Homo sapiens: one gene and its partners. The protein of the gene in region 5 purifies or fractionates together with the protein of the main gene of each other region. This does not show direct contact. Each region holds a gene or a part of one and is shown on either strand. Other genes may lie near its edges. The genes, in order: RAB11FIP5, GLRX5, GUK1, MSRB3 and SRI.

Evidence for each region.
Region 1: the proteins of SRI (region 5) and RAB11FIP5 fractionate together in Homo sapiens (co-fractionation; one large-scale study listed by BioGRID). This does not show direct contact.
Region 2: the proteins of SRI (region 5) and GLRX5 fractionate together in Homo sapiens (co-fractionation; one large-scale study listed by BioGRID). This does not show direct contact.
Region 3: the proteins of SRI (region 5) and GUK1 fractionate together in Homo sapiens (co-fractionation; one large-scale study listed by BioGRID). This does not show direct contact.
Region 4: the proteins of SRI (region 5) and MSRB3 fractionate together in Homo sapiens (co-fractionation; one large-scale study listed by BioGRID). This does not show direct contact.

Annotation. Positions count from the first base shown.
Region 1 is NC_000002.12:73,102,841-73,106,650, forward strand, and holds part of RAB11FIP5 (rab11 family-interacting protein 5), read right to left. Parts: intron 1-3,810. UniProt on the Homo sapiens protein: Rab effector involved in protein trafficking from apical recycling endosomes to the apical plasma membrane. Involved in insulin granule exocytosis. May regulate V-ATPase intracellular transport in response to extracellular acidosis.
Region 2 is NC_000014.9:95,537,740-95,541,549, forward strand, and holds part of GLRX5 (glutaredoxin-related protein 5, mitochondrial precursor), read left to right. Parts: intron 1-3,810.
Region 3 is NC_000001.11:228,143,197-228,146,592, reverse strand, and holds part of GUK1 (guanylate kinase), read right to left. Parts: intron 1,898-3,396; exon of another isoform or gene 1,841-1,897; intron 1,083-1,840; coding exon 969-1,082; intron 568-968; coding exon 526-567; intron 1-525. UniProt on the Homo sapiens protein: Catalyzes the phosphorylation of GMP to GDP. Essential enzyme for recycling GMP and indirectly, cyclic GMP (cGMP). Involved in the cGMP metabolism in photoreceptors. It may also have a role in the survival and growth progression of some tumors.
Region 4 is NC_000012.12:65,281,628-65,285,437, reverse strand, and holds part of MSRB3 (methionine-R-sulfoxide reductase B3 isoform 2 precursor), read right to left. Parts: intron 1-3,810. UniProt on the Homo sapiens protein: Catalyzes the reduction of free and protein-bound methionine sulfoxide to methionine. Isoform 2 is essential for hearing.
Region 5 is NC_000007.14:88,209,811-88,213,620, forward strand, and holds part of SRI (sorcin), read right to left. Parts: intron 1,116-3,810; coding exon 1,072-1,115; intron 321-1,071; coding exon 173-320; intron 1-172. UniProt on the Homo sapiens protein: Calcium-binding protein that modulates excitation-contraction coupling in the heart. Contributes to calcium homeostasis in the heart sarcoplasmic reticulum. Modulates the activity of RYR2 calcium channels.

The DNA of each region.
Region 1 (3,810 bases), on a different chromosome or scaffold from region 5:
CTGGCTCTGCCTTACTAAGTGGCTTGAAGCAGCCATTTCACCTCTGTAAAATGAGGGTGATAAAATCATGCAGTTAAAGACAAGGTAAAGTGAAACTAGAACTATTATATTCAGAGTATGGTGACACAGTTGGAAAACCCTTTTCCCTAGAGCCTCCTCCACCCTGATGCCTCCTCTCCTCTCCAAGTGCCCACCACAGCAGCCTGCCTCACACACTGGCACACAGGAGCTGTGTGGGCCTCAAGCCAACCCCTGCTGTCTCCCCGCATCCACCGCCTACCCCATCTTTTGATTTGGTATCTACAGTAAAACTGCAAGCCAGACATAATTGCAGGACAGGATACAGCCTCTTATCAGGCCAGAAGATGATTCTTATCACCTCCTCTGGCACCATGCCTGGCACCAGCAACCTTTGGAGGGAGCCCAGGTCCTCATTCATGAGTTCCCCCTGCCTCTGTGGGGACAGCTCACTCATCCCTCCTCAGACCCCAGCCAGGTCCAGCCTCCCTCCCTCCTGGGCACAAGCACTTTTAATCCTCATCCTAATGCTGTAGGCTCCAAAGGTCTGTCACTGTCAGCTCACCCAGCACAAGGAAAAGCTGCAAAAATGGCTGGAGACAAGTCAAACCACAGAGAGCAACAGAAAAGATGTAGGGTTGATAGCACAGTGTAGGGAGAAAAGCATCAGGCTTAGACATCAGAAATCTGGCTGCCACTAAAGAGTTGTGTGACCTTGGACAGGTCATTCCACCTCCTGAGACCCCAGTCTCCATATTCGCAAAAATGGTGATCCCCCTGTCTGCCCTCAGGGAAGAATGAAATGAGGTGATACTGGGAAGGCACCCTTAAAAGTAGGCCAAACCACACAGAAAGATGTGGGTTTATTGTCTATCAAAGGCCTTTTACAGGCCATCATCAGCCCCATATAAGTGAGGTGGCCCAGGACCAAAAAGCAACAACCCTGCCCAGGAGGAAGGAGAGAACCCGCAAGATGACCTCTCTCAGGGGATCTCTGGCAGGTGGAAAAATAAAGAAATTCCACTTAACCCATCCCCCTCCCCAGTGTGCTCCTAACCCCATATTCACCCTGACCAGGAGACTCAGGTTGAGGAAGACAAAACCAAGTGGCGATGGTCCCCTCTGCCAAGGTCTCAGTTCAGACCCCACAACAGGGGGAAACAAACAATAACTTCCCTGCCAGGCTCATGGGAAGTACAGAACTGTGTGGTGAGAACGTTGCATTTGGGAACAAGGAGGGAGGGAAGAAAAAACACAACGCATTTGCCTTTAAATGCAGAAAACACCTTTGGAAGGTTACACAAGAACTGGTAATGTTGGATGTCTCTGAAGAGAGGAGCTAGGTGACTTAAGGTGGGTCAAGGGAAATTTTTTTCATTATGTGCCCTTCTGTACCTTTAGAATTTGGACCAGGTGAACTACTCAAAAGTAAATAGGGGCCAGGTGTGGTGGCTCACACCTGTAATCCCAGCACTTTGGGAGGCTGAGGCAGGCAGATCACTTGAGGTCAGGAGTTCGAGACCAGCCTGGCCAACATGGTCTCTACTAAAAATACAAAAATTAGCTGGGCGTGGTGGCACGCACCTGTAGTCCCAGCTGCTCGGTAGGCTGAGGCAGGAGAATCACTTGAACCTGGGAGGCGGAGGCTGTAGTGAGCCAAGATCACACCATTGCACTCCAGCCTGGGCAACACAGCAAGACTCTGTCTCAAAAAACAAAACAAAACAAAACAAAACTAAATAGGAAGTAAAGAAAGTCCTGCTGTTTTGCTGAGAGTGGCACACAGGGAACTAAGCTTGGCTCCCCTCACTCCCTCTCCTGGCCCAGTCCCACCACACTCACAGTTTCCCTGCCTCCAACTCACCCTGCCTCTAATCAGGTCTCACCTGTTATTCAAGGCCTCACCTCTCCCAAGAAGCCCACCCTGATCACTCCAACTGGTGAGCTCCCTCTTCTCCTGACCCCCTCATTCTCTCACGCTTTTTATATGCTGCTTTGTAGAGGAATTGTCCTTGCTGCGTTAGGCTTATCTCAAACATATTTTAGCCCTTCTGGAGAAAGGGCTATCCACTTTATTTCCCTGGTTTCCCCCACAGCACTGACCTAGGCACAGTGGTTACAATGGTTGTCCAGTAATTGCTTCCTGGATGTTGTGAAACAGAAGGGAAAAAATAGCAAATGACTGTATTGCTGCAGGAGGAAGAACAGGATGGCTTGGAGTGTTCTGTCACAGTAAAACCAGCATGTGACGTCTTGGGAAGGATTACGGAGTCTGGTATGTGCTGATGCCCCCAAGCCCTGCTTGAAAGGAGCAAATCTCCCCAGGGTGGAAAGTGCCCTGGTGGAAAGTGAGGCTGACCTTCTCAGGCCTCACTCCACTCCTTTTTTTATTTTTATTTTTTGAGACAGGATCTTGCTCTGTCACCCAGGCTGGAGTGCAGTGGGGCAATCATTGCTAATCGCAGCCTTGAACTCCCGGGCTCAAGTGATCCTCCCACCTCAGCCTCCTGAGTAGCTGGGACTACTGGTGTGCACCACCATGCCCAGCTAATTTTTTGTATTTTTGTAGAAATGGAGTCTTGCTATGTTGCCTAGGTTGCTCTTGAACTCTTGGCCTCCAGTGATCCTCCTGACGCGGCCTCCCAAAGTGCTGGGATTACAGGCATGAGCCACCACACCCAGCCCTCACTCCACTCCCGAGAGGTATCTGGTGGCAGTGACTCCCTCCCAAAGTATGAGACAACATCCCCCAGCCTCTGGGACAGACATAAGGCTAGAGCTGCAGACCAAATGTGCTTATCCCAATAAACCAAGGACTCACCCAGGAGAAGCAGGTCATGCCTACAGAGCACCAGATTAACCCCCGAGATCCATGTCAAGGAGAAGAGAGGAAGCCTTGGCAGGCAGCAGCTGAGCACCTGGCCCTGTGCAGAGCAGGGTCATGGAAGACATGGGGGAAGACTGAGGTGGGCAGTGTGGTGTGGTGGCCAAGAGCATAGACTGGGAAGCCAGACTGCCTGGGTTCACATCCTGACTTTGTGCCATGTGCTGTGGTCAAGTCCAGTGACTCATGCCTATAATCTCAGCACTTTGGGAAGCTGAGGCAAGAGGATCACTTGAGAGTTCATGGCTGCAGTGAGCTATGATGGCACCACTGCATGCCAGCCTCAGTGATGGAGCCAGACCCTGACCCCACCCCCTCAAAAAAAAGAAAGAAAAAGCAAAGTCACTTTACCTCTCCGTGCCAAGGTTTCCTCAGCTGTTAAACAGCACCTACACCTCAAGGGCTTGCTGTGGACAAATGGAAGTCCAGACCTTAAGACAGTGCCAGCACCCAGATAGGCCTTCATCAGCAATGCACTAGACCAACGAGGCAATGAAAATAATGCACCAAAACAGGTGCCACATGCTCCAGATGTGGGGATTCAGAGAAGGCTGGGGAGGCAGATGGGTTCCATGATGGCCGACAGGTCTCTGGTGTATGTCCCCTCCTCACAGAGGAGGAGACCACAGCCAGCGCCAGTGGCTCTGTCTGCTCCGAACATCTCCAGGGCTCCCTGTCTAGGCCCCAAAACACAGCACTTGGCTATAGGGCTTCCTCCAAATGTAGGGAGATATCCAGGCTTCCCCCCCTTTGGAATCTCTCCCCCACCAGTGGCCCACTCTTGGCCTTTCAGGCCTCTAGAACTGCCTTTGGATTGGACTACCCTTCCAGGTCAGCAGAGAAGCCCAATGTCCCCATCTCACTAAAACCTGGCAGGCACTTCCACAGAAACTCCGGGGTGCACACAG
Region 2 (3,810 bases), on a different chromosome or scaffold from region 5:
GTGCCTAAACCGGAGGAAAACATTCTTTCCTAGTTTTGAGTACTGGGTTCCCAGGAGTGTGATACAGACACATCTTGAGACTGTGACCCAAGGAACAAAGGTGACTATGAGGCAGCATTGTGTTCTGGCCTTCTCAAGACCTTCTTGTCCTTCTCTTTTTATCTGGAGTGCACACAGAAGACAGTCACAAAGGGATCAGGTCCCAGTAGACTGACATCATCATTTCCTAATCCTGGTCTTAATAAAGGAACTTATGCTCATGGAAGCAATGTAGAAAACACTGAAAAGTTTAAAGAAGGAAAATCACCTGTAATTTATGGAAACTATTGTATTAACATTTAGATCTAGTTCCTAACAGTTTTTTTTTTTTTAACACATTGAGACCATGCTTGTCTATACATAGTATTTTGCCCTCCAGAGACGAGGGAATATGTCTTATGCCACTGCCTGTGGTGCTGTGTGTACCGCTTATGCAAAGCAAGCTTTCAGTGAGCATTTTAATAAATAAATAAATACTGCTTTTATTTATCATTATATTGCAAACTCTGCGGCCTTAAAGGCATTATAAACATTTGCTGCCGATTTAGATCATCATTGTAGTCCTTGCATCTGGAACAGTGACAGAATAGGGACTCAAATGATTTGTTGAATAAATAACCATATCCTGTTGTTGAATGTTTATTAAGCATTTGAAAATACGCTCCACCTTTTCAGTATCAGGGAATTGAAGACAGTAGTGAAACATGTCATGCTGGTGAACCTTAAAAGTTGGATAACAAGTTGTGTGTATGTGCTTGTGTGGTGCACATGTATGCTGCAGATGGGAGTATAAAATGGTACCAACACTTTGGAGGAGTAACTATCAGTACCCAGTCAAGCTATGGGTGAACAGAGCCTAAGACCCAGCTGCGTGACTCCTAGGTATATATTCTAGAGAGGGGGATCTGCAAACTTACCCTAGTAAAGGGCCAGAGACTAAGTACGTCAGGCTTTGTGGGCTGTGTGGTTTTTGTTGCATCTATTCAACTCTGCTGTTATATAGCCTGAAGTCAGTCATGGGCAATATGTAGATGAATGAGCAGGCTGAGTTTCAATAAAACTTTATTTATGAAAATACAGCTTTAATTACGAAGTAGACTGGATTTGGCCTGAAGACCATAGTTTATCTGTCCCTGGCCTAGAGACTGACTTCTGCATGTGTGTGTTAGGACATGGGTCCCCAACCCCCAGGCCAGGGATCGAGGACTTACAGCAGGAGGTAAGCGGTGGGTAAGTGAGCTTTACCGCCTGAGCTCCGCCTCCTGCCACATCAGTGACGACATTAGGTTCTCATAGGAGCACAAACTCTATTGTGAACTGCACATGTGAGGAATCTAGGTTGTGCGTTCCTTACGAGAATGTAACTAATGCCTGATGATGTGAGGTGGAACCGTTTCATCCCGAAGCTATCCCCACCCTTCCCTGGTCCGTGGAAAAATTGTCTTCCACAAAACCAGTCCCTGGTGCCAAAAAGGTTGGGGACCTCTGTGTTAGGATACCTGTGTTGGCGCGTTCATTGCAGCATGGCTTGCAATAATGAAAAACTGACAGGAAGGGATCTTGGTCTATTAGCAGCAGACCAGATAAATAAACTTTAGTCACATGATGGAAAGCTAAACTGTAGTTAAAATGAACTAGATCTAGATGTATTTAACATGGCTGAATCTCAAAAATACAATATTTAGTCAAAAAGCAAGTTGCAAACACGTAATTATGGCATAATACCATTTGTATATGTAAATGTTAAAGGCATAAAACAGTCCCATATATTGCAGATATGTGTGCAGTGCACTTGTAGCTCCTGGGCAGGAGTGAGATGGCAGCTAGAGGGTAGAGGCCACCTCTGGTGAGGGACTCAGGTAGCATGTGGTTAAGAGTCTGGGCTTTTGTACTCCTGGAAGCCTGGATATAAATCCTGGTTTCACTGCGCTGTCACTGTGAGTTTCGGTAAGTTACTTAACCCTTCTGAGCCTTAGTTTCTTCATCTTATGTAAAGTAGGGATAATTGTACCTGCCTTGTCAGATTTTTGTAAAGATTAAATAAGATTATTTTTGTAAAACGCTTAAAGAGTATGAAACTCAGTAATCCTTAACTCAATAAATGGTATATATATATATATTTTTTTTTTTTTGAGAGAGTGTTACTCTGCTGCCTAGGCTGAAGTGCAGGGGGCAATCTCGGCTCACTGCCACCCCTGCCTCCCGGGTTCAAGCGATTCTCCTGCCTCAGCCTCCCAAGGAGCTGGGATTGCAGGCACCTGGCACCATGCCTGGCTAATTTTTTTTATTTTTAGTAGGGACAGGGTTTCACCATGTTGGCCAGGCTGGTCTTGAACTCCTGACCTCAGGTGATGCACCAGCCTTGGCCTCCCAAAGTGCTGGGATTACAGGTGTGAGCCACCGCACCTGGCCTGAATGGCGTTTTCATTACTTTAGGGTATACTTAATCACTTTTTCCTGCTTTATTTTCCTATGCTTTTTCTGTTGCCTTTCTCAGAAAAGCATTACTGTGAAGGGTGGGTGGTGGAGCATGTTGGTATGGAGAGAATGTCCACACTGTACCTGGTACTATGCTGGGAGCTCAATTCATTTCATTCCTTAGATATCATGGAATCTTCATAATATGTGAGGCGTAGAGTATATTCCCATTTTACAGATGAGGAAACTGAGGCTAAAAGATTAACAGATTTGTCTGAGGCTACATTTACAGGCTAGCAAACCAGATCTACTGATCCTTAAGCCTGTGCCTTGCCCACTCTGCCCCGTGCCTTGCTTTTCCTCTAGTGAGGGTCTACTGATTTCCGTGCTTTCAGCTCAGATCATCTTATCTCGACTTAACGCCATTCTCTAAATTAGAGAATATGAAGAAATTGTGACTCTCAGAGGTGGTGTAACTTGCCCAAGATCACAGAGTCTAGTAGGTAAGAGACAGAGTTGGAACTCATATCAGATTCTGAAGCTACTGTAGTGAGGTTCTACCAGGAAAAATAAAAAGAAAGAAAACTATGATTATGCTGCTCTCGTAATTTAGTGTCCAAATCAGGAGTAATGCCCAGTGTTCTGAATGTGATGAATTTTGAAAAATACCTTTTGAAAGTTCTGGAAGGGAATTTTAAAGTATCATTTCTGTACTCTTTCTGGGTTGATACTTTGGAATATGAATTTGTTTGTATGGGTTTTTTTGGTGGAGCATTAGATGCGTGTAAACTGACTTTGTAAGATAGCCTCCTAACTCCCAGTTCCTAGTGTTACTCTGCCATATAACTTTGCAGTCAGCATTTTCTGCCCCAGATGGAATCACCACCGTCTATCACATATGAAATAATGATTATCATTAAAATTCATTCTTGGATGTGATTTTCTAATTTTCAGGAGTAGCTCTCTGATTCTGAGTTAATTTCAAGTGATATTTGTAAGAACTACCACTGCATATTGCAGTTTTTGAAAACTAAAGTGTGAGAGAGATTAACCATGTGTAAACAGTTACTTGTGGATCCGCAGGATTCATTTTAATATTCAACTTATGAAGAGTAGTCTTTTATTATTATTAGGAGTTTCTCACTTCACTCTATAGGAAGCAATTGGGTATTTCCTTAAATATTTAAACTGGTAATCAACTTTCTTAAAAATGGAAAAGAGCATAGTCATTAAGAAGGGTGCCAACGTTTGGCCTTGATGCCAGCTGCCTATTACACCTATTCATCTAAAAATTAAAGAAGCAGCTAAGTTTAATTTTGATAAACCGTCAGCTGCTGTCAAGAACAGGCAGGT
Region 3 (3,396 bases), on a different chromosome or scaffold from region 5:
AGTTGGTGGTGATGGGGTGGGGACTGGAGACCAACAGGTTCTGGGGGAAGGTGGTGGGGGAACTGGAGACCGTCAGGTTACAGAGGGGACGATGTGGTGGGGTGACTGGAGACCACTGGGTTGCACGGCAAGGGGCGGGGGTGCTGTTGGGAAGGGGGTCCCTTGTCTTGAATCAGGCAGGCAGAGTAGCCCTTTTTACCAGGACTCCAGAAGACAGCTCAAAAGTGCTGATAAGTGCCGAGTCCAGGACAGGGCTGGGGACAGCAGCACTGTGGCCGCCTCCAAGGTGGGAGGAAGACAGCCCCAGGCCTTGGCCGGCCTCTCACACTGTACCCAAGGAAGGCGACACCACGCTGTGGCGCTGACACCCTGATTGAGTTCACCGGCCCTTGGAGGCAAGGACCCATCTCACAGATTAGGGATTGATGGGGGCAGGAGACGGGCAGCACAGCCAACACAGCTGCAGGGCCCAGCAGCCCTGCCCACACTGGGGGTGCTCCAGCCATAGGGCCCCACCCCACTCACCTTTGCCGTTCTCCTCGCCGGGCCTCGGGTTCCTCGTGGTATCTAGCAGAGAGACCTGTCACCCATCGGGGGCTGCTCGGAGCCCAATGCCCCACCCAGCGTTTCCCTTGCAGTCCCGACAGCACTTGAGCCCCAGGATGCAGGCAGCCAGTGAAGCACACCACTGGGAAGGCGCAGGAGCCTACAAGGCGAGGGTTCTCCCAGAAAGAAACACTGTGGCCCAGTTATCAGTACTCAACAGACCCAGGGAAGGGAGACACAGGCACGCAGGACAGCAGGAGTGTGATAACCTCAGGTTCTGTGTGGGGGGGAGTGTGCAAGAGTTCGGACAGTCTGCAGGGTGGGTGTGCCTGTTGGGTTTGGGCTCCTGGCCTGCTCACGGTGCTAGGACTACTCAGCAGCCTTGAGGTCTACGCACCCCTCCACGAGAGCCCTGGACTCACGGGACACGCTGAAGCCAAAGATGCCGCTGTGCTCCTGGAGCAGCCTCTTCAGCAGGGTGCTCTTCCCAGCTCCCGAAGGCCCGCTCAGCACCACAGGCCTGGGGCCCGACATGCCTGGGGGTGAGAAGAGAGGCTGTGGATAGCAGTGCGGCCTCTAGTCCCCATCTGCTGAGCTGCCTCTGCCTTCCTGAATTCATGGCAGGAAAGGGCTGACCCAGGGATGGAGACATTGGCCTGAGAGTCTCCTGAGAGCCTGGGTGTTCTTCCCCCTGAGCTCTGCCACGTTGGAAGGGCCGGCATGCACAGGGCGGCCCTCAGACCAGGCTCTGGGCACACGGGAGACGAATGGAAGGCCGGCTTTACTGGGTTCTCAGCAGGGGAGCCCCCCAACTGAAACCCACTGACCCTGTCAGCCTCCCCAGGGGTCCCTAGCAAGCAATGCTGTCTACTCTGATGACACCCTACCTGGGAGCTGCCGTCCCCACCTGGTGGAGTCACCTCCAAGCCCTCTGGGAGCCTGCTCTGAGACCCCCACCCCACCCAGGAGTCCAGCCATTTGCTCCCATGCATGGTGCTGAGTGCTGGGCTGCTAGGTCTGGAATGGAAGTGTCCCTGTCCCCGCCTCTGTCCTCTGGTACCTTGCCCTGCAGATATGGTCTTGTAAAGATCTACTGAATCTACACCTATTCCAGGAACTTCTCATAGGACTTGGGACTCCTATCTGTGATGCTGGTAATGCCAGAGGGGGTTGGAGGCCTCCCTCCCAGCCCCCAAGGGAAAGGCAAACAGGATCCTAGCTTGGACACGTGGCAGGTGAGGGCCCGGGAGCTGGCCTTTGCCTGGTGGGAATCCTCCCCAAGAACAGGGCCTACCTGTTTGCTGAGGTGCAGCCTCTGTAGTCAGCCTGGGGTGGGTCTGTCTGCTGGACTGAGAGCTGGGGGTGCTGAGTCCCTAATCCCCACTACGCCTGCTTCTGGCCCCACCCTTCTAAGCCACGAATAAATCCCCAGGGGGCCTGGCCCTGGGCCCTTGCAGGGAAGCAGCCCCATCCACCTGCTCTGCGGCTGTGCAGGAAGGAAAAGACAGCTCCAGCTCTTGCCCCAAGACCTGCACCTGCCCTGCCCTCCCAGTCCACATGAGCTGCACACACAGGGCCAGGGCAGCGTCTTCGAGTTGGGATGGGGAGCAGAGCTGAGGAGTGGGGCCGTGCACTGCAGCTGTGTTCAGGGGCTGGGCTAGAGGGAAGCGGATGGACCCCTGGCCACACGCACACCTTGGACACAACTCAGGCGAGGCGTGAATGGCCTCCTCCTGTTTAGGGCACAGCCGCCTGTGGGCAGACGAGCAGACAGTGGGAAGGACCTGAGGATGCCCTCCTAATCCCCAATTTAGGCCACCGAGGTAATCTCACAAATGCACCACGGCTGCAACTCCATCATGCACAGCGACACCCACCACACACATGCCACTCCCAGGCACAAAGGTATGCAGGATGTGTGCACAAACCTACCACAAACACACACACATGCATGCACACACAAACACACACACAAATGCACGCACACCAAGCAAATGCACACACACCACACATGTGTACCTGCAAAGGTACACATGCACACGCATACATGTCATTGATCACAAACACACCGGACCCCCAGTTAAAAAGACTCAAGAGGAAGGGAACTGCAGGACACCCACCCAGAAGTCCATGTGCTCTCCATAAGGGATAGACTCCTCCCTCCTTACTGCCTCTTCTGGGCTTTTTGTCACAAGCACACATCGTTTTCATCTCACCATGCACCCCATGCCCTCCTGGCTCTCCCACCCGCAGAATTTGCCCCTGCGCTTAGCTCGGGCCTCCCCACTAACCTGGCTCCTGCTGCTCACCCAGCCCTGCCACCTCCTCTACGTGCCAGCCAACCATCAGCACGCACTGCAGTGGCCAGGGTTCTTTATCCATTCAGCTTCTCCCAGCCAGCGAGCCCTGCAACCTCCACAGCCTGGTTCCCATAATGCACTAGCTAGGAGCCCCCCAGAGTCTCCCACAATCAATGAGCCATGCCACTTGTGTGAATTTCTGGCCCCTGCTTCTCGCCAGGGTGGAAGGGGTACAGTTCTCAGGACACATCCAGCAATTGCTACACACCTACTTGAAGCACTGAGATCACAGAAATTATGACTTGATGGTATTATGGTGACTTTTCTAATACGAAGGAGAAAAAGTAAAGCTAAATCATGTGCTTCGAAGGACCCGATATGGGAGAGCTACTCAAATGGTCCTGTGGGCTGGACCCCATGTGAGCTTCTGTCCTGTTGCTCCACTGAGCTGGCCCTTCTTAAGGTCACTCTGCCCTGCCAACCCACAACCAGCATGGCACTGGTGGGCCTGACAGGGCTGCCCCAAGGCCGGTCCTGCCCTGTTCCCCCC
Region 4 (3,810 bases), on a different chromosome or scaffold from region 5:
TTTCCTTTAGGAAACCAAGTATCAATAAATAGCCCTGAGGTTTCCACATCAGCACAGCTGGGTAACCCAATCACAGCAATGCCCAGTAACAATGCTGCTCCAGGCTACCACGGCCAAGTGTCAGAGATCAGGGTATAGTGACCGGAGTGGCCAACTCAAGTAAGTGTACAGGAACCTTGCAGTCAACACTTGAAGAGATAAGGCAAGCAAGGAATTCTGTAAAAATGAGGGAAGTATGTGATTTATCATTATTTTTCATTTTACATTAGGAAGTTATCAATAATTATTTTATGGATAAGAACCTGACCATGGCCACAAAAAGTAACCATAAAGGACCCCAAAAAAGTATAAAGAGTACTCCATCTGGTGGAAATCATATCTTCTTCACATTCTGTCCAGTCTTGGGGAAGAAGAGTGAGGAACGAGGAGGAGTGTGAGACACAATGTGTGTTCAAATTGGTGATGATGAAGACATTTAGGAGTCAGTCCTTTATCTGAAGAAAGATAAGAAGCCACTGAGGGAGGGTTAAGCAGGAAAGAGGGGAAATGATTTTGTAGTTTAGAAAGGTCATTCTGGATGCAGTATCCTTTGTCCAACACTTCCCATGTATTATCTCTCAAGTTAGTAAATGTGATGTCCCCTCAACAAGGAAAGCTCGTGAACAGAATGCCATATACCGACTCGGCATCTTTTAAAGTCAGATCAAATTCTCTCTTCTCTATGATGCTTTTCCTGTACCCTTCCTTTTACTCCAGCTAACAAATGCTCTCTTTTTCTCTTTATTTTTAACTCTCCTTACTCATACATGTTTTATTTCCAGCCTTGATCTCTCCCTCCAAGTTCCAGTTTCACACTTCGGATTCTACTACACATCTCCACAGGAATATCCTACCAGCACCTCAAAAGCAAGAGATCTAGAACAAAACTTATTTTTACCTCCACCCACAAACCTGCTGAGATCACATTCTCTCCATCACCCAGGCTTAACATCTCATGTCACCTTTTATTCATCCCTTTCTTTCCCAATATCCAATTGCTTATTTCTGTCCAATGTACTTTAGCAACACTTCTACTGCGGTGCCGCTATTCTCGTTAGGTCTTCATTCCTTAAGAGAAACTCTCAAAACACTTCTTTATTGGTCCTATGACTTATTTCCCAATTTAATTAATTATCTAAACTATTGGATTATATAACCTATAATTCACCTCTGATTATGACATTTCAAGGATCAAAAATGTCAGTCTCATAACTTACTAACCCAATCCAAGTTCCCTAACAGCATTAAAAGCCTTCCACTTAATTTTCCATATTTGTACTTTATTGTCCCACTATTCCACTTTATACATGCTCATTTTCTTCTACACCTGTCCTCTCTATCTGATCTGGTAAATTCTGGGTGCTCAACAAAAGCTGATTTCCTTCTGTATGAGTTGCTGTCCTCTCCTTCCCCCTGCCATCTCAGTTACAGGAAAGCATCCTATCATTTGTATATTCCCTCTTCATACAGGAAATTAGTGTTCATGGAAAAGCATGTAAAATCTAGGAAACAGACAAGTATTAAGAAAGAAAAGCAGAGTGATTGAACTCCAATTTCAAAAGAAGACAGCAGCAAGCAGGATACCATAAAAGCATCAGAGTATCTGAAAAAGTCAGAATTGTTATACCTGGAACAATGGATGCTCAGAGCCTATCAGAATTCTTCTAGCTGAGTGCAGTGGCTCATGCCTGTAATCCTAGCACTTTGGGAAGCCAAGGCTGGCAGATCACTTGAGGTCAGGAGTTTAAGACCAGCCTGGCCAACATGGTGAAACCCCATCTCTACAAAAAAATACTACAATTAGCTGGGCATGGTGGCAGGTGCCTGTAGGCCCAGCTACTCAGAAGGCTGGAGTGGGAGAATCACCTGATTCTAGGGAGTTCGAGGCTGCAGTGAGCCATGAGTGTGCCACTGCACTCCAGTCTGGGTGACAGAGTGAGATCCTATCTCAAAAAAAAAAAAAAATTCTAGGTGATTCACTGACATATGGAATTTATAGTTTAGTGAAGTTGAATATATATGGACTTAACTACAACACAAGACAATATAGTAAAACTTGTACTCCAACCATGGTCCAAAACACCTTAGAAGCACAAGGAAATTACAAATTCTGTGGTATGAAGAAAATGTCACAAACTACCATCTGACAGAGGCCTTAAAGACTTCAACCTGTTGTGATAGAGAAGAGGTCCAGGCAGTAGGAACAGCCTAAAGGAAAGGTAGAGACAGAAAATGTTAGATATGTGTGAGAAATAGGAAAACAACTGATAAATTCTCAGTCCCTAAGCTATTACTGTTTCAAATATCTCTACCACTTATAGTTTTAATGAACTTATCCTAAAGAGCCACTGGAGGTCAGCATTTTATTCAGTGAATTCCTGAAAATATGCAGATGATTATTTGCAGAGTGAATTAGTTGTTATCAGAGAAAATGTTCACAATTCATTTTAAGGACTATAACCTCATAACATAAAATGGAAAAATGCAAAATCAAACCATCTACATGGCTGTACTACGTACATCAGATACTCTAGAATTAGAAGAGACTTTAGGGAAAATCTAGGTCAACCATGTGACCTAAACTGTGTCTATCAGGTTCTACCTCCCAGGAATTTAGGATCAAGGCTCAATAATATAGTCCCTCCTTATGAAGGGACACATAAATACTCAGGAGCTGCTGAGCAGCCACATCTAACCATGAAGAGAAAAAAAAAAAAAAAAACACCAGCAAAGAAAAAACAGTGAAGCAAACTAGAGACAGGGAATGTTCTAGATTTTTCCAGTCCCTTATCTCAGGCCCTAAATGAGGTCTGCCTGCATTTGACTTCCAATGGTTTTCCAACAAATTCCTTTCTTCCTTTTTGCTAAAACTAGTTCATTTCTGTTACTGCAATAGAAGCTTAAATGAGGCAATAACCAAAATCTTTCATAAAGTCAATTGTTCGATGCGTTTGTTTGATCTTTTCTATACTTTCCTTTTTTGTACTTCCCTTAAAGCCATAAACATGACTTCAGCATACTATACAGACAAATATATGAACATGGATGAGGGACTGTGCTGAGCAATTTTTTTTTTTTTTTGAGACAGAGTTTTGCTCTTGTCGCCCAGGCTGGAGTGCAGTGGCATGATCTTGGCTCACTGCAACATCCGCTTCCCTGGTTCAAGTTATTCTCCTGCCTCAGCCTCCTGAGTAGTTGGGATTACAGGTGCCCACCACCATGCCCGGCTAATTTTTGTATTTTTCATAGAGACAGGGTTTCACCGTGTTGGCCAGGCTGGTCTCAAACTCCTGACCTCAGGTGATCTGCCTGCCTCGGCCTCCTAAAGTGCTGGGATTACAGGCGTGAGCCACCACACCCAGCCTGTGCTGAGCATTTTAAAAGGAAAACCCATCATGGGCAGGAAAGAGAAAATACAGAATATTCAAAGTAAATCCTTGAGATACAGCAAGAAGAAATGCTAACTAACAACTGGCAAATTAAATAGCTGATTACCCTTCCATCCAAATCCAGTTTAATTCTGCTAAATCAGATAGGTAGATCCAATTCAATCTTCTCTGAGGTAAGATCAAAAGGTGATAACCCATTATAGGCTATTTCATCTGGAATGCTCACAGATAACTAGCCTTCCCAACCACAGAAATGTTTGGATGCTCTCTGGCGGTATCCCTAACCCAGACCTAAATAACAAAACTGAATATCAAACTGTCTTAAGGCCTGGGCTTAACTATCCCCAAAAACCAGTTAGGCATTTACCCTATGACATAATCA
Region 5 (3,810 bases):
TTACTGTGTTGCCCAGGCTGGTCTCGAACTCCCGAGCTCAGGCAATCCACCCTCCTTGGCCTCCCAAAGTGCTGGGATTACAGGTGTGAGCCACTGCACCCAGCCTGGTTTTAAAAATAAAAATCAACTTACTTCTACCAATGAATGGAGAGTTCTAGTAAGCCATACCTACCCATTGTTGTCAGGGCCTTCTGCAATTCTTGTGGGTCTACTGTTCCACTCCTGTCAGTGTCAAAACTGATAAAGTGTTGTCTCCAGCCATTCAGTACAGCCCAGAGTTCTTTAAATTCATTGAAACCCATTGTGCCAGACATATCTCTCTGAACTGTAATCAAGGATTAGAGCTGTATTTTGCGATATTTTCTAAGGATTAAATGAAAGATCAAGGATAAGGGGAATTCAATATTCAATGGCTAAAAAAGTTATTGTAGATTATTCTTGGTATGATGTAAAATTAATGATTTAAAAATAGAAAGGGGCTATGGAGAAAAAGCTCAAGTGCCAATTTTTACTGTGGGGAAAAGATAACTTACATGACTTGATTATAAGGAAATAGCGTTGCCATTGTGAACCACTTATAAAAAGCGGTCTTGTTACTGGAACTAGGCTGTACTTTGTGGGTGCTTCAGGCTATGCTGTTTGCCCTTCTGTCCTAGCATCATCTCTGGTACTAATATTCCCTTGTTTAGTGCCCCCAGACAAATGAGGTGGGATGGAATGCACTGGATAGTCAGCACTACCTAAACTCAGTCCAACAAGTGGGATGTGAAAAATCCCATCACTTGCAGAGGAATCAATGTTAAAGAAAAAAAGCTGTCCTGACACTCTGGACTCTGTACTTGTTCTATAATACTCTGATGTTTCCTTAAATTCCTGAACAACATTCTGTTTACTAAATTTCTTTTCTTCCTTTATTCACACCAAATTCCACCCTATAATAGAAGCTAATTATTTCAGAAAGCTTTTTAGTGATCATTTATTACTTTGTGTTTACTAGATATTAATTCTAAGATGAATTCCTTTAGAATTTTAGAAAAAATTATTCTAGACAACAATCAAAGTAAAGGATACATCCAGCATTGAAACCATAAGCCGGCAAGTCTCCAGGTTAAAAGCTGTTAAATCAAGAAAAGTACATACATATTAACACAAATCCAAAAATTCACATTACACTGGATACATTCAAATTAATTAGAAATATGATTATTATACACTTTTATTTTTATATGCTATCAATTTACGTGTGACTAATCATATGGAACTTCAAAGTAGCCTTTTCTCCATAAAGAAGATTTTTTGCTAGGAACCCAAATTTGATTTAAATAACTTTGACAGAATTCCTTTTAAAAAGTATTACATAGTCCGGGTATGGTGGCTCACGCCTGTAATCCCAGCACTTTGGGGGGTGCCGAGACAGGCGGATCACCTGAGGTCAGGAGTTTGAGACCAGCCTGGCCAACATGGCAAAAACTCGTCTCTACTAAAAATATAAAAATTAGCCAGGCCTGGTGGCACACACCTGTAATCTCAGCTACTCAGAAGGTTGAGGCAGGAGAATTGCTTGCACCTGGGAGGAGGCGGTTACAGTGAGCTGAGATCATGCCACTGCACTCCAGCCTGGGTGACAGGGCAAGACTCCATCTCAAAAAAAAAAAAGTATTACATAGTACTGTTCATACTTTCTTGCTTTGAAACTGTAATATAGCGAGTTCAAGTCACCATAACGAACCATAATGTATTATATCCAACATGGTGGGTGGGAAGTCAGGGTTGCTTTGTTCCTACTCATAAATGACTATAAATTGCTGGTTTTGCTAATTTTGTGTCTGATTACTTGTTTTTCTATTTTCCCTTCAATGTCAGGTACTGAGCAGTAACCTCCTACCTCAAATAGTCTATGACCTCTTAGCTTATATATGAAACCAGATAAATATGGTTGTTAGAATTATGTGTTAAATAAGAGTACTCTAGATAAGACCCCATGACCAATTCAGTGGTGGCCACTATTCAGAAGCCTTTTTAATTTACCTACAGTTTAGGAGTATTATGAGGGCATTTTGGTACCTCACTTATGTAACCAAACCAGAGCACATGCAATGGGTGTGGTTACTGGTAACCTAAGCATTAGGAAATTAAAAACCACCTCTTACATTGAATTAATGGGAATCAATGACTGAAGAAATTGTATAGGTACAAAGAAGCTACAACGCTAAATGGCAGAAGTGACAAGGGTCACGTGGGAAAAGCTGGTATAAATTCTGCAAGCTTGTTAACACACAGAACATTTTTAACAGCTCTTTGTAGCTTCATATTTTTTCTCAAACCAAACTGAAATTAAAACACAACTGCGCTCATTACTGTAATGTCTCCCAACAGTGCAAACTATAGGTTTTACACATTTAATAGATTCCTGTGTTTGGCATATGCTTTACTGGAAATAAAAGACTAGTGACTATTTCTATTTTGGTCCTTCAATCTCCATTTGATCCACAGATAATATTCTCTGAGGTGAGAGGAGGAGGAAGCACTTTTTACAGTTTGGGAAAGAGCTGGTAGATTCTTCATTCTGACTTTTAAGTTGTGTGGAGGTATGAAGTCCCTCTAATCTGGAGCTGTAGTTCTCCACACTTGTGCTTATCTGAATCAAAGCTTTAAAAGATTCTGATACCTGGGCTGCACCATAGAACAATTAAATCAGGAACTCTGAGTGTGGGACCCAGGTATTTGTATTTTTAAAAAGCTTTTCAGATGATTCTAGTGAGCAGCCAAGGTTGAGACCACCATTCTACTCAAAGTGTGATTCCTGGACCAGCCATATTAGCATCACCCAGGAGCTTGAAGAACTGCAGAATCTCAGCCCTTACCCTACACCAATAAAATCAGAAGCTGAATTTTAGCAGATGTGCAGGTGATAGATATTCATGTTAAAGAAGCTGGTTCAACCTGAACCAGCATCACATGGAAACCTGTTAGAGGTGAAATTCTCAGGACTCACTCCAGACCTCTGAATGAGAAACTCTAGGGCATGACCCAGCAATCTGGTTTTTGTAAGCTTTCCAGGTGATGCCAATGCTGCTAAAGTTTAAGAACTGCTCTGGACGGCCTGACAACCACAGCGCAGAGCCAACTGTGTTGGGCTCACATGAAGGTATTGAAGGGGCTATGAGGCAGACAGCTTCTCTGTCTCTGTTAATGAATGGCACCCCCATCCACTCAGCAGTAACCCAAGCCAGAAACCTGGGAGCCTCCTCAATTCCCTCTCCACCAATAATCAATCACCTTCTAAACAGCTGTAGAGTCCATTTCCAGCCCCACTGTCTCCTTAGTTAGCATTTCTCTCACCTGTATGACTCCAGCAGCTCCCTAATGGGCATCCCTGACTCTTGTTTTACTTCCATGTCCCCCAATTTATTAGTCTTTACAGTCAGGGGTAGTATGTGCTCTCCTATGCAAAACCCAGTATCAGTGATCTACTGCTCTCAGGATAAAGTCCAAGCACCTTAACTGGTACATAAGGTAACACACTTATTTTGCAAGTCAGGCTCATCTCTTACTCTTGTTCAACCCCGTACACTATCTTCATGGAGAATTTCTCAATTTCTTGACTGAACCACGCTATTTCTGGGTCTTCTGCACATGCTGTTCTAACAACCTAGGACACAACTTCCCCATCCCACTCACTTCATGGTCGGCCTCATTTCTGCTCAGCTTAGGTATCAATTCTGCAAGGAAAACTTTCCTGACTCCTGTCTGGGTTATGTGCCCATTCTATGTGATTCCACAGCCTCTCTCTTATCCCAGTGCTTTTCC